7 linked regions of the Homo sapiens genome follow. Changing the gene in region 1 together with any one later gene gives a genetic interaction. Each region holds a gene or a part of one and is shown on either strand. Other genes may lie near its edges.

Evidence for each region.
Region 2: changes in EZH2 (region 1) and CUL5 together harm fitness less than expected from each alone (positive genetic interaction), as found in Homo sapiens cells (one large-scale study listed by BioGRID).
Region 3: changes in EZH2 (region 1) and DCAF7 together harm fitness less than expected from each alone (positive genetic interaction), as found in Homo sapiens cells (one large-scale study listed by BioGRID).
Region 4: changes in EZH2 (region 1) and HDAC8 together harm fitness more than expected from each alone (negative genetic interaction), as found in Homo sapiens cells (one large-scale study listed by BioGRID).
Region 5: changes in EZH2 (region 1) and DAZAP1 together harm fitness less than expected from each alone (positive genetic interaction), as found in Homo sapiens cells (one large-scale study listed by BioGRID).
Region 6: changes in EZH2 (region 1) and SEC31A together harm fitness less than expected from each alone (positive genetic interaction), as found in Homo sapiens cells (one large-scale study listed by BioGRID).
Region 7: changes in EZH2 (region 1) and SLC39A9 together harm fitness more than expected from each alone (negative genetic interaction), as found in Homo sapiens cells (one large-scale study listed by BioGRID).

Annotation. Positions count from the first base shown.
Region 1 is NC_000007.14:148,877,323-148,881,501, forward strand, and holds part of EZH2 (histone-lysine N-methyltransferase EZH2), read right to left. Parts: intron 1-4,179. UniProt on the Homo sapiens protein: Polycomb group (PcG) protein. Catalytic subunit of the PRC2/EED-EZH2 complex, which methylates 'Lys-9' (H3K9me) and 'Lys-27' (H3K27me) of histone H3, leading to transcriptional repression of the affected target gene.
Region 2 is NC_000011.10:108,070,853-108,075,031, reverse strand, and holds part of CUL5 (cullin-5), read right to left. Parts: intron 2,701-4,179; coding exon 2,570-2,700; intron 1,643-2,569; coding exon 1,535-1,642; intron 1,233-1,534; coding exon of another isoform or gene 1,155-1,232; exon of another isoform or gene 966-1,154; intron 1-965. UniProt on the Homo sapiens protein: Core component of multiple cullin-5-RING E3 ubiquitin-protein ligase complexes (ECS complexes, also named CRL5 complexes), which mediate the ubiquitination and subsequent proteasomal degradation of target proteins.
Region 3 is NC_000017.11:63,574,091-63,578,269, reverse strand, and holds part of DCAF7 (DDB1- and CUL4-associated factor 7), read right to left. Parts: intron 1-4,179. UniProt on the Homo sapiens protein: Involved in craniofacial development. Acts upstream of the EDN1 pathway and is required for formation of the upper jaw equivalent, the palatoquadrate. The activity required for EDN1 pathway function differs between the first and second arches.
Region 4 is NC_000023.11:72,328,857-72,332,363, forward strand, and holds the end of HDAC8 (histone deacetylase 8), read right to left. Parts: intron 2,021-3,507; exon of another isoform or gene 1,960-2,020; intron 1,913-1,959; coding exon of another isoform or gene 1,835-1,912; intron 1,221-1,834; coding exon 1,198-1,220; 3' UTR 660-1,197; downstream 1-659. UniProt on the Homo sapiens protein: Histone deacetylase that catalyzes the deacetylation of lysine residues on the N-terminal part of the core histones (H2A, H2B, H3 and H4).
Region 5 is NC_000019.10:1,427,677-1,431,855, reverse strand, and holds part of DAZAP1 (DAZ-associated protein 1), read right to left. Parts: intron 3,015-4,179; coding exon 2,861-3,014; intron 1,890-2,860; coding exon 1,860-1,889; intron 1,635-1,859; coding exon 1,494-1,634; intron 1-1,493. UniProt on the Homo sapiens protein: RNA-binding protein, which may be required during spermatogenesis.
Region 6 is NC_000004.12:82,817,947-82,822,125, forward strand, and holds the end of SEC31A (protein transport protein Sec31A), read right to left. Parts: intron 3,163-4,179; coding exon 3,091-3,162; intron 1,308-3,090; coding exon 1,128-1,307; 3' UTR 563-1,127; downstream 1-562. UniProt on the Homo sapiens protein: Component of the coat protein complex II (COPII) which promotes the formation of transport vesicles from the endoplasmic reticulum (ER).
Region 7 is NC_000014.9:69,450,290-69,454,468, reverse strand, and holds part of SLC39A9 (zinc transporter ZIP9), read right to left. Parts: intron 1,229-4,179; coding exon 1,160-1,228; intron 1-1,159. UniProt on the Homo sapiens protein: Transports zinc ions across cell and organelle membranes into the cytoplasm and regulates intracellular zinc homeostasis. Participates in the zinc ions efflux out of the secretory compartments.

The sequences.
Region 1 (4,179 bases):
TTGAAATAGATAAAACGTGTGGTACCATTTTTGTAACTTACCAGTCCTAAGCACGTAATTTTAACTTGAGAAGTGTTTGGTTCCATTAATGAGAAAGTACATCAACTCTAAAATAATATTGGCACAATAACTGAAAATCATTTATCAAACACTTTTTGCCAGGTACAGTTCTAAGGATTTCACATGTATCAATTCCTTTAATCCTCACAACCACCTTATCAGATGTTATCATTATCCTCACCAATTTACAGATAGGGATGCTAAGACATCAAGAGGATAACACCCCAGACACAAATTGGTAGCTCAGGGACTGGAACCCAAGAAACTGTCTCCAAAGACCACATCCTTAGAACTCTACTCTCCTCCCCTCTCAAATGCATACTATTACCACTCTGGCTGAGAAAGAAATCCTCAAAGTTAACCTTTAGTCTGTCTAGGGTTTCACACTGTACCTTCCATCAAACTACAATTACCTACTTTTAAATGTAACTTTCTGAATGATTCAAATAAACTCATTCTTCTCGGAGCTGACATATCTTTAATCACCCAGAAAGCCAGCAGATAACACAGAACAGATAATATGGAGTAGATAATATGTAGTGAAACAGAACTAAGTTTGGATCCCGAATGCAAATTCCCAGCTGAATAATCCTGGGCAAATTCTTAACTCCTCCCCTGTAGACAGTTTTCTTCAGTTTCCTCATCTGTAAAGGTTTTCGGAGTGTGTTATTAAATTTTGTATTCTGGTAAGATATATAGATATAGAGAGAGATATATATAGATACAGATACATATCGTGTAAAATTTACCATTTTAACCATTTTTAAGTGTACAATTCTGTGGCATTAAATATATTCAAAATATTGTTCAACCATCACTATTATCCATCTCCAGAATTTTTTCACCATTCCAAACAGAAACTCTGTATTCATTAAACTCCCCATTCACCTCTCCCCTCACAGCCCTGGTAACCTCTATTCTACTTTCTGTCTCCATAGAGTTGCCTCTTCTAACTACCTCATATAAATGAGATCATACAATTTTGTATTTTTGTACAAAAGGTTGTATCTGGCTTATTTCACTAAGCATAATATTCTCCAGCTCCATCCATGTATCAGAATTTCACTCCTTTTATGTCTGAATTATTTTGAAATCTTTTTACTTTTATTTTGAAATTTCACTCCTTTTACGTCTTTATTTCACTCCTTTTATGTTTTCATTGGTTTATATACCACATTTTGTTAATTCGCCTGTTGGCAGACACAAGGTGGTTCTTACAAATATTAAAAACAAAAGCTGGGTGCAGTGGGTCACACCTATAATCCCAGCACTTTGGGAGGCTGAGGTAGGTGGATCTCTTGAGTTCAGGAGTTCAAGACCAGCCTGGGCAACATGGCAAAACCCTGTCTCTACAAAAAATACAAAAATTAGCCAGGCGTGGTGGCATGCACTTGTAGTCCCAGCTACTTGGGAGGCTGAGATGGAAGGATCGCTTGAGCCCAGGAGGCAGAGGTTGCAGTGAACTGAGATCACGCATCTGCACTCCAGCCTGGGTGACAACAAGACCCTGTCTCCAAAAAAAAATTTTTAATTTAAAAATGTTTAAAAAGTATCCAGGCCAGGCGTGCGCAGTAGCTCACGCCTGTAATCCCAGCACTTTGGGAGGCCGAGGCAGGCGGATCATCTGAGGTCAGCAGTTCGAGACTAGCTTGGCCAACGTGGTGAAACCCCATCTCAACTAAAAATACAAAAATTAGCCAGGTGTGGTGGTGCGTTCCCGTAATCCCAGCTACTCGGGAGGCTGAGGTAGGAGAATCGCTTGAACCCAGGAGGCAGAGGTTGCAGTGAGCCGAGATCACGCCACTGCACTCCAGCCTGGGCAACAAGTGTGAGACTCCATATCAAAAAACAAAAACAAAAACAAAAAACAAAAACAAAAACAACACAGCAGGGTGTGGTGGCTCACACCTATAATCCCACCACTTTGGGAGGACGAGGCAGGTCAATCACTTGAGGTCAGGAGTTCCAGACCAGCCTGGCCAACACAGTGAAACCCAGTTTCTACTAAAATATAAAAATTATCGGAGGCTGGGCACAGTGACTGACGCCTGTAATCCTAGTACTTTGGGAGGCCAGGGCAGGTGGATCACCTGAGGTCGGGAGTTCGAGACCAGCCTGGCCAACATGGTGAAATCCCATCACTACTAAAAATACAAAAATTAGCCAGGCCTGGTGGTGCATGCCTGTAATCCCAACTACTTGAGAGGTGAGGCAGGAGAATCATTTGAACCCAGGAGGTGGAGGTTGCAGTGAGCCAAGATGGTGCCACTGCACTCCAGTCTAGGTGACAGAGTGACACTGCATCTCAAAAAAATAAATAATAAATAATAAATAAATAAATTAGCCGAGCGTGGTGGCGCACGCTTGTAGTCCCAGCTACTCAGGAGGCTGAGGCACAAGAATCACTTTCGAGACTCCGTCTCAAAAAAAAAAAGTATCTGGGTCAAACACAATGGCTCAGCCTGTCATCCCTGTACTTTAAGAGGCCAAGGCAGGAGGATTGCCTGGAGCCAGGAGTTTGAGATCAACGTGGGCAACAAAGCAGGATCCCATCTCTACAAAAAATTAAAAAATTAAATAAGTCACCACAATGGTGTGCACTGGTAATACCAGTTACTCAGGAGGCTGAGACAGGAGGATCCCTTGAGCCCAGGAGTTTAAGGATGCAGTGAGCTATGATCTTGTTCTGTCTTGCTATTGTTAATGGAAAACAAGACCAATTATTAAGAAACTGCTAACCACATAATCTAAACACAAATTTGTCATATTTTTATACCAAGTAGTGGAACAGTGGCAAGATATGGAATGGTGCAACTATCTTAGAAATTTACCAGCTGTAACTTTTGAGGTATCACTAAATTTGCTAATCTGTATTTAAATCATTTTAAAAGAATGATGAAAAGCATCCCAATAAATGATCCAATTACACTGTCGCTACATCCTTCAGTTTTAGCTCCAAAACCTACCTCAATTTACTCCAATAAAGAACTCATGAATTATAACAAAACAGCTTTTCAGTTAAAAGATCTACTACCCTCTCTCGCCCTTTCCCTTCCTTATATTTTTGCAAAGAGATCATCAATATCAACATTAAATCAAATTAAGCAAATACTATTACTAAATATCCAGATGATTCATCAAGTTCTCTCCAGTTGTCCGAGTGTAATAGTTGCATCTAAAGGATATCTAATGTTTAGTACTACAGATTATAACTAGGAAAAACTTGGAACTTGTTCACCTTGACAACTATTTTTCTTTGTAATCATTCCCTATTAAAGAGGGAGAAAAACACATTTCAAAGTTCCTCACATGAATACTAACATATCCTGTTCACTTTGCAAGTTCCTTTGTCAAATTATTTCCCTACATTTTTCATATTTCCTTAATTCATTCAACTATATTTAAAACCCCTATTCTCTAGCAAATACCAACGTAGGTACTAGGTATACAAAGAAAAAAATAAGACAGAGCCTCTACCAGGAGGCACTTTGACTGTAGGGAAGAGAGGGATGCATAAACAAGTGATTACAATACAATTGAGTCATGCTACAATAAAATATGATAAAACCCTGTGGGAACACAAGAGTGGGAATTCAGGGAAGACCTCCAGAAGGTAAAGTATGTATCATCTGACCATGAACCTTTCTCTGAATTTAATGAATTGCTGCTGTTCACTTATGCTCTCCCCCGAAGATTTCACCTACTCATATAGAATCTATCATGATTTACAGAAAATTTGTCATCTATACTGATATAAAGACTTCAAGGCTAATCCATAAATCATTGCTAATTAACCACAGAATACATTATATTGGAGGATTTGTCCTTGTTGGTTTTTAAAAAGCAGATCAACTTTCTCAATCACTGCTCATGTAAAGGGTAATACTGAAATAAATTCAGAATCCTTGAGCACACTACCTCAAAAGAAGGAAGGTATCCTGGGAAAATTCCAGTATGACTTGGAGAAATTTGCCTAAAATTTTTAAATGGCCAACATAAAGATATTCACTTAAATGTATTTGTGCAAGGCAAAGCTAGGTATCAAAGTATCAGAACTTTTTCTAACTACACTAGATCAACAAGTGTGTTTTAAGTCACTGCTACTTAAACTGACTAAAT
Region 2 (4,179 bases), on another chromosome or scaffold:
CACATTCTACCATTCTGTTTAAAATTTTTAAATGACTTCCCATCCTACTCACAGTAAAAACTAACTCCTTCCCATGGCTCAGAGTCTTACATGATCTGGCTTCCTATGAAGCCTTTGCAGGCTACTCAATTTAAGACTTCACACCACGCCCACCATGTCTATACTCCCTTAACTCCTTTCCTACTTTACCTACTTATTTGTTTTATTTTTATTTATTTATTTTTTGAGACAGAGTTTCGCTCTTGTTGCCCAGGCTGGAGTGCAATGGCACGATCTCAGCTCACCACAACCTCCACCTCCTGGGTTCAAGCAATTCTCCTGCCTCAGTCTCCTAAGTAGCTGGAATTACACGCATGTACCACCACGTCCAGCTAATTTTTCGTATTTTTAGTAGAGATGGGGTTTCTCCATGTTGATCAGGCTGATCTCGAACTCCCGACCTCAGGTGATCCACCCGCCCTGGCCTCCCAAAGTGCTGGTTACAGGCGTGAGCCACTGCACCTGGCCTATTTACTTGTTTTAAAATAGACAAAAAGAGTCTGGGCACAGTAGCTCAGGCCTGTAATCCCAGCACTTTGGGAGGCCGAGGCGGGCCCATCACCTGAGGTCAGGAGTTCGAGACCAGCCTGGCCAACACAGTGAAACCCCGTCTGTAGTAAAAATACAAAAATTAGCCGGGCATGGTGGTTGGTCCCTGTAATCCCAGCTACTCGAGAGGCTGAGGCAGGAGAATCGCTTGAACCTGGGAGGCAGAAGTTGCAGTGAGCCAAGATCATGCCATTGCACTCAAGCCTGGGCAACAAGAGCGAAACTCAGTCTCAAAAAAAAAAAAAAAAAAAAATTAAAATAGACAAAAAGAGTGAGAAAAAAATCCTACTGGAGAATGGAGAAAGTTGTCTTTTTAGAATCATTCAAACTTGGGAAGTAACGAAAGGTAGTCAAAGAAGAGAAAAAACTAACAGCAATTTCTTGTTATAGGTTTATTACACTAAAAAAGATACAATGCTAAGGACAGTATGGTGTTTTATTATCATTATCCTATACTAGTGAGGATGGAAAAAGATGGTATGCAATACAAATGCTTCCCTGGGAAACAAGGATAAGTATAACATAACTCCCGAAGGAGTCCCATGAAAGGACGGAGGATGGAGGAATCAACTCTGCTGGTGATGAGCTGTGGAGGGAGGCAGGACATCAAGGAAGCTCCAGGGGAAGTATTCTTTGAGCTGGGTCTTAATGGAAGGATGAATAGGAATTCAATAGATCAGTAATATTCAAAAACAGAAAAACATTCTTGGAAAAATGAGAAAAAAGCAACTTTCTAACTAAATTCTAATTCACAAGGCTATCTAATGTTTAACAAATGCTTACAGCCAAGACAAAACGAATATAGTTGTTCTCCACTGATGAAAAATAACAGTTGCTAGGTTTTTAAGTTTATAATTAATAGAAAAATAATGCAAATTGATTATTAGAAGTAAATTATGAGAATAAAACTTTTAAAAGTGTTTTTTATATATATAGGAATATATACCTTATCTCTTGCAGTAAGAAATCGTGGATCATCTTGAAAAGCTTCTTTGACGAGTTTACTAAATCTATTAAATAGTGTAAGTAACTGCTCAACGTATTTCTCAGAGTCCTAGAAACAAAAGGTTTTACATTAAGTTTTTAAAAGAAAAAGAATAACACAAAAAAATGAGAAAATAAACATAATTTTAATAAAACTCATTTAAAACTGGGGATATTTTTTCTTAAAAATAAAACTAAAAGGTGTTCCAATATTACTGTTTTGCCACTTCTTTTTTCTTTCTTCCTTTTTTTTTTTTTGAGACGGAGTCTCGATCTGTCGCCCAGGCTGGAGTGCAGTGGCACCTTCTCGGCTCACTGCAAGCTCCACTTCCTGGGTTCACGCCATTCTCCTGCCTCACCCTCCCAAGTAGCTGGGACTATAGGCGCCCGCCACCCCGCCTGGCTATTTTTTTTGTATTTTTAGTAGAGAGGGGTTTCACCATGTTAGCCAGGATAGTCTCGATCTCCTGACCTTGTGATCTGCCCACCTCGGCCTCCCAAAGTGCTGGGATTACAGGCGTGAGCCACCTTGCCCAGCTCCCTGTTTTACAGAGAAAATAGTAATTTCAATTACTATTTTCAATTTTCAATTCTGTATTTTTAAAAATTTAATGTTTTTATTTGTAATCAACACATAATGGTACATATTATGGGGTACAATGTTATATTTCAATGCATGTATATACTATAATGATCAAATTGGGGTAACTACTATATCCATCACTTCAAACATTTATAATTTCTTTGTGGTAACAACATAAAAAATCTCTTCTATCTTGAAATATACACTACATTGTTACTTGCTATATCCGCCCTAATGGGTAATAGAACACCAAAACTTATTCTTCCTATTGAACTATAACTTTATACCCCACTAACCAACCTCTTCTGCTCCCCCAACCCCCAGCCTCTGGTAACCGCTCACTATTTTCAATAATCCTACATTTAAAAAATAGCCTTGATATATATCTATCATTGCCATTGAAAAAAAACTTACAGTAGTAATAGTTTCAGCAGCTGCTACCATATCTGCCAGGCCAGCACTAATGATATGTTCCTCCAAGTCTTTCAACATTGGCTCTATACCATTAGGAACTTTGTCCATCAATGAAAACATTAAATGTAATTCTGGAAGGAGAGAACACATTCATGTAATCATTTCATTTACTAGAGTAAGAGTTTAGAGAAACATTAGTTAAGTTTGTAATGTTAATAGTATTCTGTGGATACAATGCCATTAGGAGTAGTTGTTCGTTTTTTTGTTGTTGTTTTTTTGTTTTTGAGACAGGGTCCCAGTCTGTCACCCAAGCTGGAGTACAGTGGCTCGATCACGGCTCACTGCAGCCTTGACCTCTTGGGCGCAAGCAATCCTCCCATCTCAGCCTCCTGAGTAGCTGGGACCACAGGCACATGTCACCATGCCTGGCTAATGTTTTTTGTAATTTTGTAGAGACAGGGTCTCCCAATGTTGCCCAAGCTGGTCTCAAACTTCGGGGCTCACACAATCCTCTCGCCTTGGTCTCTCAAAGTGCTGGGATCATAGGTATGAGCCACTGTACTTAGTCTAAAAATTATGTTTAAAAAAAAATCGAATTAAAAGTGATCAGGCTGGGTGTGGTGGTTCACGCTTGTAACTCCAGCACTTTGGGAGGCCAAGGTGGGAGGATCATTTGAGCCCAGGAGTTAAAAAGACCAGTCAGGGCAACATGGCAAAACCCATCGTTACACAAAAACAAACAAACAAAATTAGCTGGGTGTGGTGGTGCATGTCTTTGGTCCCAGATACTTGGGAGGCTGAAGTGTGAGGAATGCCTAAGCCCAGGAGGCTGAGGCTGCAGTGAGCCGTGATTGCACCATTGCACTCAGCCTGGGTGACAGGGCAAGACGGTCTCAAAAAATAAAAATAAAAAAAGTGATCAAATACTGCAAAACCCAACTCCTTTCTTTAAAAGGTCAGTCATTTGGCCAGAAGCAGTGGAGATCAGCCTGGGCAACAAGGTGGGGCTCTGCCTCTACAAAAAATACAAAAATTAGCCAGGCATGGTGGTACACGGCTGTAGTCCCAGCTACTCAGTGGGCTGGGAGGTGGGAGGATCGCTTGAGCCCAGGAGGTCAAGGCTACAGTGAATTGTGATCGTGCCATCGAATTCCAGGTTGGGCAACACAGCGAGACCCAGTCTCAAAAGAAAAGGTGAGTCATTTGGTTTTCAGTGCAAAGGAATATTTATTTACACACAAGATTAGTTTATTTCATAAGGTAGTTGTAATACTACATATACAGCCATATCATCAAAAGGTAAAAAACATGAGTAATAATTACGAAAGCAACTATATTAGAGATTAGAATATAAAACTGTATTCATAAATAATTTTTCAATTTACAAAGCACTTTTTCATGTTATGCCATTTTATTGACCTTCACAAAAACCCTACCTCACGGTACTGATTACCACTAAATAAATCCTTTTGAAAAGAGTGCAACATAGATCAGACATAACTCTAATTAGACTGGCACACAGAATACAAGTATTTTGTTTACGCCAATAAAGCAGCTTGCTTTTTACTACTGAATTACTCCTAAAAAGTGTATGAACTTAAGTGAATTGA
Region 3 (4,179 bases), on another chromosome or scaffold:
ACCTCAGCCTCTCAAGTAGCTGGGGTTAGAGGCATGCACCACCAGACACAGCTAATTTTGTTCATTTTTTGTAGAGACAAGGCCTCACATGTTGCCCAGGCTGGCCTTGAACTCCTGGGCTCAACTGATCCTCCCACCTCAGCCTCCCAAAAGTGCTGGGATTACAGACATGAGTCACTATGCCTGGCCAGTGACAGAAGTCTTGACACTGTACTACACTAAACTGCAGAATCAAAAACGATTGCCATGAGAGGGTATCTAGTCCAACCATCCTCTGGCAGACAAGGACACCCAGACTCAAAGGGGTGGTTACACTCAACACTGCAAAGCCAGTAGGAGACAGAGATTACAGGTTTTCTGACTCAAGTCTGCATTCTTGACTCCAACTACATAAGTGCACTATCTGCCAGGCCAGGCACACCTTCCCCTGAAACCCCTAAGGTATTTGAAAATGACCAGGGGTGGTTCTTGGCTGCCACAATGACTGAAGTGCTGAGGACATTTGGTGCTCAGGGGCCAGGAATATGAAACACCCTTTGCAATTTCATTAAACAAACTAATGCTCACTTAAAAATCCAATAGTGCACAACCCTCACCAACCCCAAACTCAACACTGGCTCATTATGTTTACACATAAAGGTATGTCAAATGACCGTTTGAGAGCCCAAACCACTGTGACTGGCAAAAAAAAAGTCGGCGCCATTGATGAGAAAGTCCCACCTAGCTCTGATCACTTTTTCTTAGAGTCAATTTTAGCCCACCATTAACTTCCAATCTTTGCTGTCAAACTCAATCTGGCTCAATGGGACACTAACTGTACATTTGCTTATGAACTTCCAACTGGAAGATGGAATAGTGGGGATATTTGGTAAACATCCACAATAAGGGGAAAAGCACTAACCAGACAACACAAAATAAAATTCCTTCTACTCATCTTTCTGACCTCAGTCTCAGACACACCAGTATCTTCCAGACATTTTCCCCCCAAAGTTAGGTATAGTTGCATATAATAAAACCCACTCAAGTGTACAGTTAAATGAGTTTTGGCAAATGTACAGTTGTATAACCCCCACAGTAAGATATAAAACATTTCCATTAACCCAGAAAGCTCTCCCAGGCTCCTCCGCAGTCAACCCCTCATACCTACCCCAAGTAGCCACTGATCTATGGTTTTGTCTCTCCATAATACGATATAAATAGAATCAGATGGTCTTGAGTCTTTGTGTCTGGCTACTTTCATCAGTACACTGCTCTTGAGATTCATCCATGTTCTTGTGTGTATCAGTAGTTGCTTCTTTTCTTACTGCTGAATAATATTGCATTATGTGCAATGTGGCAGTATAATTTTGGGTTGTTGAGATAGGGTCTCACTCTGTTGCACTGGTTCGAGTGCAGTGGTGCAATCGTGGTTCACTGCAGGCTCAACCTCCTGGGCTTAAGCAATCCTCCAGCTTCAGCCTCCTGAGTAGCTGGGACCACAGGCATGTGCCACCACACCCAGCTAATTTCTAAATTTTTTGTAGAGATGGGGTCTCCTTATGTTGCCCAGGCTGGCCTCGAACTTCTGGGCTCAAGTGATCCTCCTGGCTTGGCCTCCCAAAGTGCTGGGATTACAGGCGTAAGCACCGCACCCAAAAAATTTTTTATGTCCTAGTTGAGAAATCTTTGCCTAATCCCAGGTCCCAAATATTTTTCCCTGTTTTCTTCTAAAAGTTTTCTAGTTTTAGGCTTCATATTTAGGTCTCTGAGTCATTTCAAGTTAAATTTTTATATGGTACAAGATATGAATCAAGGTTTGCTTTTTGTTGTTGTTTTTCCTTTTGAGACGGAGTTTTGCTCTTGTCACCCAGGCTGGAGTGCAATGGGCACAGTCTTGGCTTACGGCAACCTCCACCTCCTTGGTTCAAGCAATTCTCCTACCTCTCTGCCTCCTAAGTAGCTGGGACTACAGGCATGTGCCACTACGCCCGGCTAATTTTTTAATATTTTTAGTAGAGAAGGGTCTTCACCATTTTGGCCAGTCTAGTCTCGAACTCTTGACCTCAGGTGATCCACACGCCTCGGCCTCCCAAAGTGCTAGGATTACAGGCGTGAGCTACAGCTCCCGAACAAGGTTTGCTTTTTTACATATGAACGTCTGACTCTTCCAGCATCATTGGTTGAGAATTCTTTCTCCTTTGCATTACCTTGACCCCTTTATTGAAAATCAGTTGACCATGTATTTATTCATCTATTTCTGGACTCTATTCTGTTCCATTATTTATTTGCCTATCTGTCTGCTAGTAGGCAAACTGTCTTGATTATAGTAGCTTTCTAGTAAGTTCTAAAATCAGACAGTGAGTTCTCCAACTTTGTTCTTCTGTTTCAAAATTGTTTTGCTATTCTCTACTTTTGCTTTTCCATGTACATTTTACAATCAGCTTGTCGAATTTTACAAAAAGCCTGCTGAGATTCTGATTGGGATTGTGTTGAATCTATTGAGCAGTCTGGGGAGAACTGACATCTTACAATATTAAGTCTTCCAACGCATAAACATAGCACATTTCTCCATTAATTTACGCCTTTTTTAAGTTCTTTTTTTTCAGACAGAGTCTCGCTCTAGCACCCAAGCTGGAGTGCAGTGGCACGATCTTGGCTCACTGCAACCTCTGCCTCCCATGTTCAAGTGATTCTCATGCCTTAGCTGGGACTACAGGTGCGCACCACCACGCCCAGGCAATTTTTGTATTTTTAGTAGAGATGGGGTTTTGCCATGTCGGCTAGGCTGGTCGCTAACTCCTGGCCTCAAGTGATCTGCCTGTCTCGCCCTCTCAGGGTGCTGATATTACAGGCGTGAACCACTACGCCCGGCTGCCTTAATTTCTTTCAGCAATGTTTTAAAGTTTTCAGTGTACTTCTTATGATTCTTTCATTAATTTTATTTCTTTATTTCTTTTTCTGAGACTGAGTCTCGCTCTGTCGCCTCAGCTGGAGTGTAGGGGCATGATCTCCGCTTACTGAAACCTCCGTTTCCCAGGTTCAAGCAATTCTCCTGCCTCAGCCTCCCATGTTGCTGGAATTATAGGCGTGCGTGACCACGCCTGGCTAATTTTAATTTTTATTTTTTGTATTTTTTAGTAGAGACAGGGTTTCACCATGTTGGCCAGGCTGGTCTCAAACTCCTGACCTCAAGTGATCTGCCCATCTCAGCCTGACAGAGTTCTGGGATTATTGGCATGAGCTACTGCGCCTGGCCCATTAACTTGATTTCTACACAAGTTTTATGCTATTATAAATGAAATTGTGTTTTATTTTTTTTAAGATAGGATCTTGCTTGTCACCCAGGGTGGAGTGTAGTGGCTCAATCACAGCTCACTACAGCCTTGACCTCCTAGGCTCAATTGATCCTACCACCTCAGCCTCCCAAGTAGCTGGGACTACAGGTACAAGCCACCGTACCCAGCTAATTTTTGTATTTTTTGTAGAGACAGGGTTTTGCCATGTTGCCCAGGCTGGTCTTGAACTCCTGGGCTCAAGTGATCCACCCACTCTGGCCTCCCAGTATGCTGGGCTTACACATATGAGCCACTGTGCTTGACCATGAAACTGTTTTAAATTCCATTTCCAATTGTTCATTGGTACTGTATATAGAAATACAACTGATTTTTGTACATTAATCTTGGCTTCTATAACTTTGCTACATTAGTTATTAGTTTTAGTAGCTTTTTTGTAGATTCCTAAGGATTTTTCTACATATATTCATAGATCTTGTCATCCATGTTTAACTCTTAAAAATCCATATGACTAAGTCTAAATATTCATTTTATGGAGCACCCACAGACTTTCAACAATCATATAATTGTTAGGGGAGTTAACGTATAAAGATGTAAAAGGAGACAAAACCCAGTGTCCTAAAACACTTAAGATAGCAATGCAAGTAATGTCACAAGGTAATACATGATTGGCTTCTTATTTATGACACAGATAATAATCGATAACAATTGAGAGGAAACAGCAATAATTCAAATGGGGCACCTGAGGAAAAAAGTAAGCATCTGAGCAGAGTCTTCAAAGGAGAATAGGAAGGATCTGGGTAGGCAAATAGGAAAGGGAAGGGCATCCCAGGTAGGTAGAACAGAAGGGTCACACATACAAAGGTGGCAAACTAAATGACCCATTTGATAGCAGCAAGCAGGCCTG
Region 4 (3,507 bases), on another chromosome or scaffold:
TGGGATCTGCTTCTTTTTCTCCTCCCTTGCCTTGTCTGGGAATTCCTAGACAGCCAGGATGGATGGGGCTGTGTGCTTGTCTGCCGTCCCGGTCCCAGTAGTTAGTTGAAGGAGCTTTGTAAATATTTGGTAAATAAAATTACAATATCATGACATTTAGTTGTCTCTTCCTCATCTCTCCCATTATCTCCCATCCCCATTTTTCCATGTTGCCAACTCCCCAGAGGTTGCAGTAACACCACACATTACAACTTCCTCCCCTTTTCATTATGTGCCAATTGTCTACTGGGAAGCATCCTTTCTATCCATGGAAGTGCTCCTCTTGGATCTGACATGCCAACACACCTTTTCCATCCCTAAATCACTCCCTGGACAGGGACAGCTCCTCCCCAGGGTGCCAATAAGCCCCTCTCCATGACTGCAGTGCCAGTATTCCTACCCCACCATGGACAGCCCCAGTGCAACACAGAGCTTGGCCTTCTGTCCCAAGAACTTGGGCTAGGGACACACTAGTTCCCCAGTGAGGTCAGACTCTCAAGCCGGGCCAGAGTAGAGATTGGAAGGAACAGGGTTATTCTTGACACTTCAGCGAGAAGAAAAGTTCAGAACTGTGTGTGCTGTCAGTGGCGCTTTACAATGAAGACAACGGGACAAAGAGGTAGGTTTTCAAAGATTTTATTAAAAAAACCAAAGATATATAACACTAAAACAACACCAGCGGACTTCTCCCCACCTCCCAGTCTGCTGATCAGTACCCTCTCTCCCAGGGCTCCACCTGGATGGTCCTGAGGCCCAAACCCTGCCTGTCAGCTGCCTCCTGCCCTACAAACTGGTGACTGCTCTCATCCAGCTTCTGATCTGTTTCATTTAAGATGATTAAAATACTCCCCTCCCCAATTCGCTTAAAAATAATTTTCAAAGATTAAAAATTTCATTTGTGTGTGTGTGTTTTTTTAAATAAGAACTTTAAATGTGGGATATCTCCTTCTTCCCCTAGGTCCAGTTGAGGACTCTGGGGTGCCTGCCTCTTCACCCCAGGAAGCCAGCTGCCACTTGATGCCCCTTGGAAATTTTCAGGAAGTAATTTCTTTCAAATTTTCCCTGCAGTCACAAATTCCACAAACTGCTTGCATAAACACGCTGTCTTCATTATAGGCACCACTCCTCAGCTCTGGAAACCTGATCTCTTTCTGTCAACTAGACCACATGCTTCAGATTCCCTGCAAACAGGGGAGAAAACAAAATTCAAAGTCAGGTAATGTATGTGAATTATACCCCAATAGAGCTATTTTTTAAAAAGCACTTATATTTTGGGGCTTATTCTCTGCTGCTCTTGGGAACTCTGTGACCTCGCCATAAGGAACAAGACCAGAATAGCTTGCTGGATGATGAGAAACAAATGGCCCAGAGATCCCTGTCACCCAGGCAACCACCAGCCAATTACTGGACATGTGATCGAGGCCTTTGACAGCCAGCTGACTGCAGATGCTGGGTGTATCCAGCCAGAACCAGAAGAGCCACCCAGCTGAACTCAGCTCAATTGCCAATCTATAGAGTCATGAGCTAAACAAATGGTTGTTTTAAGTCTCTCTCTCTCTCTCGTAACACTTTTCAGAGTTCATTCTTTACTAACTGCATCAAATCTCATGCTCCCCACCCCCAACTTTTCTTCCTTCCCTTAGCAAGGCACAACCCTCCTAGCATTTTCTCTTGTGAGTACCTGTGAAACACGGATTGGGGGCTTTCCTCTGATCTCAGGCCTAAGAGTCTTTGAGGGAAAAGTGATCATTTGAAATCCTACCGGACTGGGCTCTAGGAATGAAAAGTTGCTCACTTTGTCCCTCCGTAGTCTTTGCCTTGCCACACTTCCCCAAGTAGAAACACTGGGCTCCAAACCCTACTGGCCACTTCTCTGAAACAGAAACAATGCTCCCTGAGGGCAGGGCCTGGCTGTCTTACTTTTGGTTGATTTCCAAAGTCTTGCACAGTGCCTCACTCATAGTAGGTGCTCAGTAAATGGCTGAATGAATGGACGAATGAAAGGAAGGAAGGAAAGAAGAAACAAGTCAGAAACAAACTACTTGCCTATCTTTTTTTTTTTTTTTTTTTTTTTGAGATGGAGTTTTGCTCTTGTTGCCCAGGCTGTCGTACAATGGCGCGGTCTCGGCTCACTGCAATCTCCCGGGTTCAAGCAATTCTCCTGCCTCAGCCTCCCGAGTAACTATGACTACAGGTGTGTGCCACCATGCCCAGCTAATTTTTGTATTTTTAGTAGAGATGGGGTTTCACCATGCTGGCCAGGATGGTCTCGATCTCTTGATCTCGTGATCCACCCGACTCGGCCTCCCAAAGTGCTGGGATTACAGGTATGCCCGGCCTTGCCTATCTACTTTTATTTTAAATTTTATTCTGCAGTAAAATTGACATTTGTGCATGTGCAGATCTGATTTTAAACATATGTATAGATTCATGACAGAGAGGAGTTCCATAACCCCTCAAATCTCCTTGTGCTATCCTTTTGCAATCACATCTTCCTTTCTCCCCCACACCTAGCAAGCACTGATCTGTTCTCCATCACTGTAGTGTTGTCTTTTTGAGAATGCCATATAAATGCAATCAAACAGTCTGTAACCTTTTAAGATAGGCTATTTTATTTTTTTACTCAGCATAATGCCTTTGAGGTTCATGCAGATTTGTGCATGTATCAATAGAAGTTCATTCCTTTTTTGTACTGAGCTCTTACTTTTAAAATAATTATAGAATAACAGGAAGCTGCAAAAAAAAAATAGTGCAGAGAGGTTCTACACACCCTTCCCCAGGTTTCCCCACATGTTAACATCTTACATAATTACTGTTCAATATCCAAGTCAGGAAATTGACATTGGTACAATTCACAGATCTTATTAATATGTCACTAGTTTTACAAGCACTCATTTGTGTGTGTATAAGTGTATAATTCTAGGCCATTTAATCGCAAGTGTAGATTCATGTAACCTCAACCACAATCAAGATGCGAAACTATTTTATCACCACAAAGATTTCCCTCCTCTACCTCCTTTACAGTCATTCCCATCCCTCCTCCTTCACCATCCCTAAGTCCCAACAACCATTCATCTGTTATCCTTCTCTAAAATTTGGTCATTTTGAGAATGTTATAGAAATGGAACCATACAGTATATAAACTTTTGAGATAGATAGGCTTTTTTCACTCAGCATACTGCTCTTAAGATCCATCCAAGTTGTGGTGTGTATCAAGTTTGTTGCTTCTTTTTGCTGAGTAGTACTCCACAGTATGGATGTAGCACAATCTGTTTAACTACTTATCTGCTGAAGGACACCTGAGTCATTTCCAGTTTTTGGCTATAGAATCAAGCCACTATGAACATTCACATACAGGTTTTTGTGTGAACATAGTTTTCATTTTTCTGGGACAAATGCTCAACAGAATAATTGCTGGGAGGTATGGTAGTAGCATGTTTAGCTTTATAAGAAATTGCCAAACTGTTT
Region 5 (4,179 bases), on another chromosome or scaffold:
GGCCCGCAGGTGAAATCAGATCACGGTGCCGTTCCTGCTGGCTGCGTGCTGTGAGGTGCAATCCCTGGCTAGGCAGGTAAGGGACGCAAGGCTCCCAGAAAGGACACCCCACGTATGGCCCATGTCCCTTCTTCTCTACTGGAGGGTGCCAAGACCTCACCCTGGGGGCCCCGTCTAAAATTCTGGATGCGCTGAGGTCAGGAGTTCAAGACCAGCCTGACCAACATAGTGAAACCTGTTCTCTACTAAAAATACAAAATTAGCCGGGCGTGGTGGCAGACGCCTGTAATCCCAGCTACTCAGGACACTGAGGCAGGAGAGTCGCTTGAACCCAGGAGGCAGAGGTTGTAGTGAGCCAAGATCGGGGCACTGCACTCAATCCTGGGCAACAAAAGTGAAACTCCATCTCAAAAAAATAAATAAAATAGTCCGGGCGCGGTGGCTCACGCTTCTAATCCCAGCGCTTTGGGAGGCCGAGGCGGGCGAATCACGAGGTCAGGAGATCGAGACCATCCTGCCTAACACGGTGAAACCCTGTCTCTACTAAAAATACAAAAAAATTAGCCAGGCGTGGTGGTGGGCGCCTGTAGTCCCAGCTACTCAGGAGACTGAGGTAGGAGAATGGCGTGAACCCAGGAGGTGGAGCTTGCAGTAAGCCGAGATGGCGCCACTGCACTCTAGCCTGGGCGACAGAGTGAGACTCCATCTCAAAAAAAAACCATAAATAAATAAATAAAATAAAATAAAACTCTGGGTGTGTCGGCTGATCTTACACTCAGCTTTTCAATTACAAGTGACGTGTACAGGAAAATTAGTCAAGAATTAGAGCCTGTGAGGCTGGGCGCAGTCACTCACGCCTGTAATCCCAGCACTTTGGGAGGCCGAGGCAGGCGGATCACAAGGTCAGGAGATCGAGACCACCCTGGCTAACATGGTGAAACCCCGTCTCTACTAAAAATACAAAAAAATTAGCCGGGCGTGGTGGCGAGCGCCTGTAGTCCCAGCTACTCGGGAGACTGAGGCAGGAGAATGGTGTGAACCCAGGAGGCGGAGCTTGCAGTGAGCCGCGATTGCGCCACTGCACTCCAGCCTGGGCTACAGAGTGAAACTCCATCTCAAAAAAAAAAAAAAAACAATTAGAGCTTGTACACCCTTAAACAAATGCCCCCCTAATCCTGAAGTATGAGGCTAAGACACGAAGTCCAGGCTCTGTCTCCTGAGGAGCCTGTGAGAACTGGTTGGGCCCAGACATTCCTGCTATGAGCTCTCCAACCCGCAGGAGCCCGGGCTGCCCTTTAGCCTAACCAGCGAGGCCACAGGCGATGGAGCCCATCTGCAGGTGAAGGGCCTGGTGGCAGGTGACCTGCTGACCAGCCGGCACCCCACCTGTGGCTGAGGCCAGACGTGTAACACAAGACTCCCCATCACCCCGCCCACCACCTGGCATCTCCGGAGCAGGCGGGAGGCCCTCCCACAAGGCCCCCTAGACTTACTGAACTGTGGCGGGGCACCGTAGCCCTGAGGGAAGCCCTGGGGAGGGGGAAAGCCTCCAGGAGGGGTGGACACGATGTAGGAGGTGAACGGTGGGGGTGGCGGGGGGGCTCCTCTTCCTGCAGGGGGCGGTCCATAGCCACCTGAAACACACAGTACGGGGGTGATGGACAGAGAGCGCTGGACAACACAGACTGGCCACAGTTAGACCCAGGCCTGCCAGGGGCCCTAGCAGGCCCCTCACCCTCTCTTCCTCTCCAGCACTCAGGACACGGGAACCAGGCTTTGCCGGCTGCCCCAGGACACCTGGCGAGTCAGCCTGCCATGTGGCTTCTGTCCCCGCCTTTGCTCTATAAACAAGGACTTACCAATCGCCTGTCCTGCCGGCACCCACATTCCTAGATAAGAGAACAGAAGAGGAGGTTGGCGCCGTGTCCACCAGCTGTCCGACGCAGAGAAGGAGCCGCAGAGCATGGACGTCAAGGGCTGGGACCAACCCCGGAGCCTCCTGTGCTTAGAGCCTGTTCGTCCTGAGGGCAGAGCCCTCTGAACCCTGAGCAGAGAAGCACTCCCCACCCCTTGTAGAACAGGCCTTAAAGCCACTCTCCTCTGTGCCCTGCCAGGTGGCGGGCACTGTGTCTGCTGACTGGGGCACGGGTGACCTCCCGGCTCCACCTGAGGACCCCAGAGAAACCTGAGACTTCTAAGCCTCGAGAGGGCAGGGACAGTCCCCACAGCACCTCCGAGTTTCCAACAAGGGAGGCTCCAGAGAAAAAGGTTTTAGACGAGGTGCAGGGAAGCCACAGTCTCGGGACCCGGACGACGTACATCTGGAACCCTGACCCACAACTCGGGTCGGGCTGCAGCCAAGCCCAGGGGTTCCGTGGCTGCTGGAAGCTCCAAGGACGGCCCACAACGTGGGCCTAACTACAGAGGGCCCACGGCACTGCAGAGGGAACGGCAGGTGGCAAGGATCCAAAGCCTGCCGGCTCCTCAAGCCCCCCAGGGGCAGCACCCCGATTCTGAGCTCAGCTTGGCAATGCCAGCCCTCTCAGGGTTTCGTGCTCAGACCTGCCGTGGCACACGGTCGCGAGGTGCAGACGCTCACTGCAGCTCTTCCCGGTGACAATGAGTCCCAGGCCCCGGACGGGCACCTAAGCCGTGGCCACCCCGCTACTGAGGAGGCTGCGGGTGCTGCCCGGGAGCTGGCTGTCAGCCGGCACCTCGCGGGGGCTCAAGGACACTGTGAACCGCGGCTCTGTGCATGCACAGCAGAGGTGGGGAGGCCGCAGCGACGGCACAGCCCAGGGCGCGCGGGCCAAGTCCGAGAAGGGGGACATTCCCGTGGGCACCTCTGCATCAGCCTTACCTTGCGGGCCATATCCTTGCTGCCACGTGGGCGGGGGCTGGCCTGCCCAGCCATTGGCAGCGTTGGGCACAACCCGGCTCCCCCACTGGCTGGCACCTGGCTGTCCCGGCGCTTGGCTCTTGCTGTCCCGAGGCTCAGCTCGTTTAACTTCCACCTAAACAAACCGAGCTCTGGTTTAGGGCGAGGCTGCGGGTCCCAGCACCCCCTTCCCTTTAGACACACCCTCGGGTAACTTATGACTACACTTAGCATCTTACAACTTAAGACTAAATACTTAACTATAAACCTTATTTAGGCCAGTAGCATTTTTTTCTTAAAAAATTCTTTTGTGTTGAATTTTTTTGTTTAAAAAATGTTTCTCAGGTACAACAGATGCAACCGTAAGACACACAGAGCCCGCCCACTGCGGGGCAGCAGGACCGAGCCCAGAGCCCTCGGGGGTTTCGTGCGTGACGAAGGGTCTTTCACTCAAGTAAAATGGCAGCGTCCTCCTTCCTCTTGAAAACATGGGGACAAAAAGGGACCAGGATCTTCCCAGCAATCGGCATCCTCATCGCCCTCTGGACTGCTTGGAGCCCGCCCACCTGTGCTTTTAACTCATACCTGAGAAACACGGCTGGTGTTTTACTTAGATTTTTAAATTTAAAATGTCTAATGGAAGATAAAGACTTACCTTCCCCAGGCTAACGCTTAAAGAATCTCAATTAACTCAAAACTAATGTCAGAGGGAATGGATGTGATAAGAGAATCTTACATTACATCTAACAAAAAAAGTAACAAACATGCAATAAAATGGACATTTGGATCAGTAAGCAATCTTCATACTGTGTTCGCTCAGCAGCCCGGGGCCCTTCCTCTCTAGACGTGTCAGGAGCCACAGTCTTCTCAGGAGGAGGGTGCGGGGCCGGGGACAATGGATGGAGCAGGCCTGACCTACTTATTCTAGGCGCAGTGGCTGACCTTCCTTTAATGCCTGCTTGAAAATATGGGTGGACTAACAACAGAAAGATCCCCCCAATTCCGGGGCTGCCTCAGCATTTGAGAATCCTGAATTTGTCTCACTTTTCTGATAAATCGTAATGAGAATAAAGAGACAATGGATCCACCTGGAGTCAGCCTTGGGGTCTCAGTCTGGAGAGCTGCACATCCTGAGTTCAGAATCCCTCAGTTCTGCCTGTTAGAGAACAGACAGCAGCAGCCACAGAGGCACAAAGCCCCCACCTGCCCAATGCCCCAAGGACCGGCCTATGATGGGAACAGGATCCGTTAGCTCAAGGCAATGTGACAGCAGGACCAAGGGACCCATTTCAAAGAACTCA
Region 6 (4,179 bases), on another chromosome or scaffold:
CAGATGATAATAAAGTCACTTGACAGAAAAACTGGGTGCAAAATGTGTGGCTTTGATTTACAGGCTGACTGAAATTAAAGCTTTCTTTCTGAACTTAAACCTCAAAGCTACAGGTAATTTTTTTTTTTTTTTTTGAGAAAGAGTTTTGCTCTTATTGCCCAGACTGGACAGCAATGGCGTGATCTCGGCTCACCGCAACCTCCGCCTCCCGGGTTCAAGCAATTCTCCTGCCTCAGCCACCCAAGTAGCTGGGATTATAGGCATGCGCCACCACGCCCGGCTAATTCTGTACTTTTAGTAGAGACAGGGTTTCTCCATGTTGGCCAGTCTGGTCTCGAACTCCCGACCTCTGCCTGCTTCGGCCTCTCAAAGTGCTGGGATTACAAGCGTGAGCCACCATGCCTGGCACAGCTATAGGTAATTTAAACAAAATAGGTGAAAAAATTTCTAGCTATAAAATGGACACAATTTAGTCTTAAAACTCAAACAGAATATTGAAACATTTACAAATAGAAAAAAGCTCAATGCATTCTACAGAACAAAAATGTCCAGTCTTTTCCTATATAGTTAAAGCCAGTGATCCCATTTTTATTAATATCTGCTAAAACCCATGTAGCAGTTTGTAGATGTAGTTATTTACTCAGGAATCCTAAGACACAAAAAATAAACTAAATTTTAAGCAGCTGTTTCAAAAAAGACTATACACACATAAAATAGGATTACACACTTTAATCTGATTGACACTGAGGAAGTAGGGAGGACATGAAAGAAATTTAGTTTTAGCTCTGCTTTATGCATAACCAGATGCTCCTTTTCTAAAAAGTATATTGAGGTTTTAAAAAACACATTTATCAGAATACTTCAGGAAACCATACTATGTGTAATCCAGGAAATACACTATTTGCAGAATAGGAAAATCATCACTGGCAACAAAAGATTAAAACAAAAATAAAGCACCAGGGTTCTGAGCAGTTCTAAGGTGAGTATATCAGCAGAAATAGTGTAAATGCTCTTGACTGGTTGCTATGCAAACATGCTAATGAGGACTAGTCCATGTCTTATAATTTTTTTTTTTAACATGTTTCTTTGGAAAAATGGCAATATTGAGTGGAAGAGAAGCTGTCCTTTTAGACACCCAGCTTATTGGCCTGGGTGAGAACAACTTTGAGAACTGGCATGAAAGCAGAGGTCTCACTGAAGTTGCTGGTGCTAACTATGTGGGTATGCATGGTCAATCCTTCTGAGTAGTTTCGAGTTTCAATGCTCCTTGCAATGTTGTGTAAACCACTGGTGATTGTTGGTGAAAGCTGAAACAAAAGTGAACCAAGAGAAAGAATTAAATTAAGGGATAACTTCCCATGAGATCCTCCATAAACATTAAACCCAGATATTTAAGTGGAATTTGAAACAAACATTATAAAAATATATAAACCATTTAGCATTTCTAGAAAGTTTCTTGAACCAAGCAACAGTTATCAAGTACAACCACAACAAAATGATTTACATAAATAAGTTATTTATGAATTATACATGTATAAGCCAGGTATTTTCTTACAGAAAAGCAGCCCGATTTCCTCTCCAAACTGAAATGCTAATTTCTCTCTCCACTTAAGAGAGCTTCAGACCTTTAAAAAATTCTCCTATGCACAAAAAGGAGATTAAAGATTCTTAATCATAATATCTCAAAGGAAGGGCCCAAATTTACTAATTCTTACCTGCTTTTTATAATCCTGTCATCTCTTAAAACTATAAAACCTGTAGTTTTTTACTATGTCATTACTTGGCATAGGTGTCCATACTTTACAGAAGACTTTATTTGGATTTTTTTTTTTTGAGATGGAGTCTCACTCTGTCACCCAGGCTGGAGTACAGTGGTGCGATCTCGACTCACTGCAACCTCCGCCTCCCGGGTTCAAGCGATTCTCCTGCCTCAGCCTCCTGAGTAGCTAGGACTACAGCCGTGTGCCACCATGCCCAGCTAATTTTTGTATTTTTAGTAGAGACGGGGTTTTGCCATGTTGGCCAGGCTGGTCTCAAACTCCTGACCTCAGGTGATCTGCCCGCCTCAGCCTCCCAAAGTGCTGGGATTACAGGCGTGAGCCACCATGCCTGGCCTATTTTGATCTCATTTTTAAAAAATGTTTTAATATATACTCATCTAGATGTATACGCTAATTGTATCTTCTGTTTTTTTTTTTTTTTTTTGGAAATGCGGTCTTGCTATGTTGCCCAGGCTGGTCTCAAACTCCTGGGCTCCAGTGATCCTCCCGCATCAGCCTCCTCAGTAGCTGGGATTACAGGCATATCCCACTGTGCCCACCGAGAAGACTTTATTTTGGATCAGTCCAAGGACCACACTACTTCCACTGTTATATCAACTTTCTTTAGTTTGGTTCTCATGAGAGAAATGGTTATTTTCATCTGATGGAACTGAGTGTGGGGAATGGGTTAGAGGAATGCTGAAATGGAAAAAATAAAAAGAAAGTCCCACTTCTTTTTTTCTTCTCCTTTCCTAGTGCTTTCATTAATAAAACAAGACAATTTTAGAAAAGAATGGTGAGGTGGGGACAAGAGAACAAACGTAGTGAACTGACTTCTTACTCCTGGCTATCTTCATAGTTACAGCACATTACCCTATTCATCTTGTGGCTACATTTGGCTTTGCTTTTGTATAATGGCTATCCTAAAAGAAAAGGGTCAAGAGTCTTAGACTATGATAAAGATTATAGATTTAGTCCCTGGAAAACAGAGTATCTGCATACTCTTTGATTTCTTGTAACTGGGCCATATAAAAGGAACAGCAGAAGGTCAGCTACCTTATGGCCAACACAGGCCAGTTTGTATTTATACTCTTGTTATGAGAGGGTTAAAATGTCTCTCTCAACACACCCACACAAACACACACACACACACCCGTATCCCCTTAACCCCAGTGAGTGGAATTTATGATTCAACACAGCCATGCCCATTCTCTAAATGTCATGACAATTTTGCCCCCATGCATACTAAATGGGAGTGCTGATAAGACAACTGTTTTACTAGCAACTAGGAATAAATGATTATCATAAATCCTTTTCCTCCAAAACTTACTGTCTGTTCCCTAAGTTTATCATACAGAAACTCCAAACGTTTGCTGGCATCATCTAGCTTCCTCTTGGTTTGCTGCAGGAAAGAAAAAATAGATGTTATATTTGAACATTAACTTTTAACCTAAGAACTTGCCCTATCTCATTGCACTAAACCTTATACTTAAAATGTTGAATGGCTTCATTTTATAAAGAAATGGAGGCAACTACAACTAAGAAACTTGAACAGATTATGGCCGGGCGTGGTGGCTCACGCCTGTAATCCCAGCACTTTGGGAGACCAAGGCAGGCAAATCATGAGGTCAGGAGTTTGAGACCAGCCTGGTCAACATGGTGAAACCCTGTCTCTACTAAAAATACAAAAAATTTGCTGGGCGTAGTGGCAGGCGCCTGTAATCCCAGCTAGTCGGAAGGCTGAGGCAGGAGAATTGCTTGAACCCAGGAGGTGGAGGTTGCAGTGAGCCGAGATCACGCCACTGCACTCCAGGCCCAGGCGACAGTGCAAGACTCCGTCTCAAAAAAAAAAAAAAAAAAAAAAGAAACTTGAACAGATTATTAGAACAGAGATCAATCATCTATCAAGGGTGGAGGGTGGAGGGGACTGGGATGAGGAGAGGATGAGACTTACTTCCAGTGCATGAAAGAGTACTGATTGGATTTCATATGAACTGCAAACTCACTTGATAAGGTATATATGCATGTTTGCTTGCACTATATTCACAAGCATCAGGAGGCAGCAATGGGTCAGTGTATCACAAAAAAGAAGGTCTAAGTAGTTATTGTCGATTATGGGTGGTAGAAGGCAAACATATAGGTGAACTGTGGAATCTTGTTTTAACCTTTCAAAAATACTACTTAAACACTTAGTTACATTTGTTTAATCCTGCCTTTTTCTAAGCCTTTAAAGCACCAAGAAAGAAAGAAAACTATCTTTTGGCAGCTTAAGATTACTGAGGGAAGTAGTAAAATAAATTATTAAATTAAAAAGCTTTTTTTTCTCTCTACCATAGCACTGTAAAGTATAATCAAAGAAACTATTCTAAAACTAAAACTAACAGTTTTAAAATTACATGATTAACTTAATGTTCTACAT
Region 7 (4,179 bases), on another chromosome or scaffold:
AATACCAAAGAAGAATTTCAAAGGAAGCATCTCTTAATCTTATAGGTTAAGAAACAAAATAGTCCCAGCTACTTGGGAGGCTGAGGCAGGAGGATTGCTTAAACCCGGGAGGTGGAGCTTGCAATGAGCCGAATCGTGCCAGTGCACTCCAGCCTCGGCAACAGAGTGAGACTCCGTCTCAAAAAAAGAAATAAATAAAATAAAGATACTAGAACTCTATATAGATGATTACTACTTAATAAGTAAACACTGGTTGAATGAATGAAATTTGTTAGAAAAGCATATTATACTTAGAAAGGGCCAGGTAACAGTGTACCACCTTTCACATGCCTTTCTTTGCCACTGACAGAATTCTATTACTAGGACTAGGTTTGGGTTATGATTCTAAAGTGTACCCTGTCAGCAATGCTAAGATCTCTGCATTCCACTGCATACCACTTCTGCTTAAACTGGTGTTTTGCATATAAACTGGTAACAGAGCTGTTCAGGACAGAAGCGCCAAGGCTCTTTTCCAGATGACATTCTAGAGCCAAGAATGAAAAGAGCAAACTTCTTCTTAAGAGCTAGACAGTAAATATTTGAGGCTTTGCAGTTATTTGGTCTCTTGCAACTGTTCAATTCTGCCACTGTTGCACAAAAACAAAAGAGATGGATCATTGTCATTGTCTATCTCTTCCTCAGCCTCCTGCAACTTTATCTTCATTCTAACATCAGTCACATTTGCCTTTCTCCATTTTTTATTGCCATCACCCTAACCTAAATTTTCATCACTCAAACAAACCTAAATCAGCAATAGGTTCCCTACTCTCATTTTTCCCTAATCAAATTCACTGTCACAAACAATACATAAATACATGGGCAAGGCTGTGTTCCAATAAAACTTCCTTAATTTGAATTATATAATTCTCATGTGCTACAGTATGTTCCTCTCTCTCTTTTTTTTTTTAAACCATTAAAAAGTATAGAAACCATTCTTAGCTTGCAAACCCCTGACACTGAGCACACCAAGCTTGTGCTTGTGTTGGAGGACTTCATTAAGAAACCTTTTCCTCAAAGGCCAGTCCAAGAGCATTCAATGAGGACGGTCCCTGAAATATAAACACTAAGGTCTCCCCTGTGCGATAGAAAACAAAGAAGTTCCACTGCAATCCAACCCTACCTGCAGCATGGACAACCAGACCCAGCGTGGTGGTGATTTTGGAATTGCTAGACCTTGCTGCTTCTGGATCTAAAGTGAAAATGAGAAAGACAGCGTTAAGCTATGTGAGACAGAAACTGTTCAAACATTGGTCTGGAGGTGAAAGAATTTCACTAATGTTGGCCAGGCTGGTCTCAAACTCCTGACCTCCAATGATCCGCCCGCCTCACCCTCCCAAAGTGTTGAGATGATAGGCGTGAGCCACCGCACCCGGCCACTATCTTTTTTCTTTCTGCTTCAAACCCTTAGAAGATTTCCCTGTCCTGAAGAGGTGGCTAAGAGGGAACTCTTCATTTGACTCAGCCCTACCTTAACAGAAAAATCACTGAAATGTGTAACCCCCAATGGCCCCAACTTCCTCCTATTCCTTAATCCTCTTCCTCTACTATTCCAAGGAAAGTGATCTATGGCCTCTGATCATTTCTTTCCAGACCAATCTAATTGTCATTGTCTATCTCTTCCTTAGCATCCTGCAACTTTATCTTCATTCTAACATCTGTCACATTTTTATTGCCATCACCCTAACCTAAATTTTCATCACTCAAACCTAAATTAGCATCAGGTTCCCTACTCTCATTTTTCCCTAATATAATTAATCTTACACATCCGTGTCAGATTCATCGTTTGAAAACACCACCCTTGGCCGGGCACAGTAGCTCACACCTGTAATCCCAGCACTTTGGGAGGCCGAGGCAGGTGGATCACCTGAGGTCAGGAGTTTGAGACCAGCCTGACCAACATGGTGAAACCACGTTTCTACTAAAAAATATAAAAATTAGCTGAGTATGGTGGCGGGCGCCTGTAATCTCGGCTACTTGGGAGCTGAGGCAGGAGAACTGCTTGAACCCAGGAGGCAGAAGTTGCAATGAGCCGAGATTGTGCCATTGCCCTCCAGCCTGGGCAACAAGAGTGAAACTCCGTCTCAAAAACAAACAAACAAAAAACCCACCACCCTTATGATGTGTCAGTTACCATTTAAGAATCTGCTGCTTTTCAAATTCAGGGCAAACTGCTATATTAGATAGGTTCTTAAGCCCTTTATCAACTAGTTCCAACTTATTTCTCAATGTCCAGTCTAGTTAAACCAGTTTGCTTAACACCATCGAACAAAACCTTCTTATTCTCCTTTCCCCAAGTCTCCTCACCTGTAATTCTTGGCACATACTGAACTTCTCAGCTTGTTAAGCCAAAACTTGGACATCAATCAAAGTCTAACTACAGAACCACTTCCCTCAAGAAAGAATAAAAAATTGAAGACTAAGCATGGTGGCTCATGCCTGTAATCTCAGCAGTCTGGGAGGTCGATGGGGGAGGATCACTTGAGGCCAGGAGTTTGAGACCAGCCTGGGCAACATCACAAGACCCTATCTCTACAAAATTTTTAAAATTTAGCCAAGTGTGGTGGTGCATGCCTGTAGTCCCAGGTATCTAGGAGGTTAAGGTGGAAGGATCACTTGTGCCTAGGAGTTTAAGGCTGCAACAAGCTATGCTCATGCCACTGGACTCCAGCCCGGGTGACAGAGCAAGACCTTGTCTCAAGAAAAATTAAAAATAAATTTAAAAAATTGATTCCAGCTCAAAGCAACTCTCCCCTTGCCTAGACCTAGTGATCTATGCAGGCAGTCTTCAAAGGTTCCTCTATACACCACCTCAGATATACAAAGCCATTTTCACTTGAATGTTTTCTATCCCCAGATGGACTGTAAATGCTAAAGCATTAAATTTTCTACCTCTCTTTTCCTTTAACATGTCTGACAGAATGTAGCACAGCACTAGGCACCCAATAGTTACTTAATAAATCCTTGCTGAAGAGTGAAAAAAGCATTTATGTGTATTAAATAAAGATGTTACTGCTCTTGTAGGAAACATACAAGTAAATAAAGTTAAAAGATGGGGACATCAAAATGCCAGGTAAAATGACAGATGAACATCAGTCAAGTAAGTTACAGGGGATTTAATCTTCTTAGGAGTCCAGCATACAAAAGGAAGGGGTTTACAATGGAAAAAGTATACAAGTAAAGTAAGATATTACCTCTTATTAATAAATGATATTTTCCTATTAAAACACTGCAAAGAAGGGAAGCTAAAGACCCTAATCACTCTGCGCCAGCAAATAGCTCAATGCTACCCTGAACTGGAAGGAACAGTCAAATTACACTGTGTGCAAGCTGGCTCTGGCCTTTTTTTATACAAAGGCTTATCATCCAGTTATACTTAGGATCTTAAACAATTAGAGGCTTTAAAATTAGAAAGTTTTTATAAACCTATAAAGACTGCAGTTTAGCATAAATTTAATAAATACATTTTATTGACATTTTATAATACATAAAACTCTGCAGAAAATAGGTAAAACCAGGTCATCAGACACGAAAGCCAGCAAAAATAATGACTTCAGAGATAAAACAGGAAGAAGAATAATGGAACACAAGCTACATTTAACTCTCTGTATAGGATTACTGGCTACTACTGCGCCCACACATTTTATTTTTATTTTTTTAGAGACAGAGTCTTGCTTGTTGCCCAGGCTGGAGTGAAGTGGTGCGATCACAGCTCACTGCAGCCTCGAACTGAAATGATTCTCCCTCGCATCTCAGCCACCTGAGTAGCTGTGATTACAGGCAAGTGCCACTATGCCTGGCTAATTTTTAAAGTACTTTTTTGTAGAGATGGGTCTTGCTGTGTTGTCCAGGCTGGTCTCAAACTCCTGACCTCAAGCCATCTTCCCACTTTGGCCTCCCAAAGTGCTGGGATTACAGGCGTGCACCATTGTGACTGGCCTGACAATCACCATATATATCTTTAGAATCAGGTTTTTTTTAAAAAATCATTCGTTAAATGGAAATTTCTTTCAACTTACTGAGGAGGAAAAATTTTATTTCACATATTTAACATGTTTACATTTACATACATGTTTCAAAACACATAGAAGTGAAGTGGCCATTTCATCATTTTCCAAATTTCTCTTTGGCAGATCAAGGATT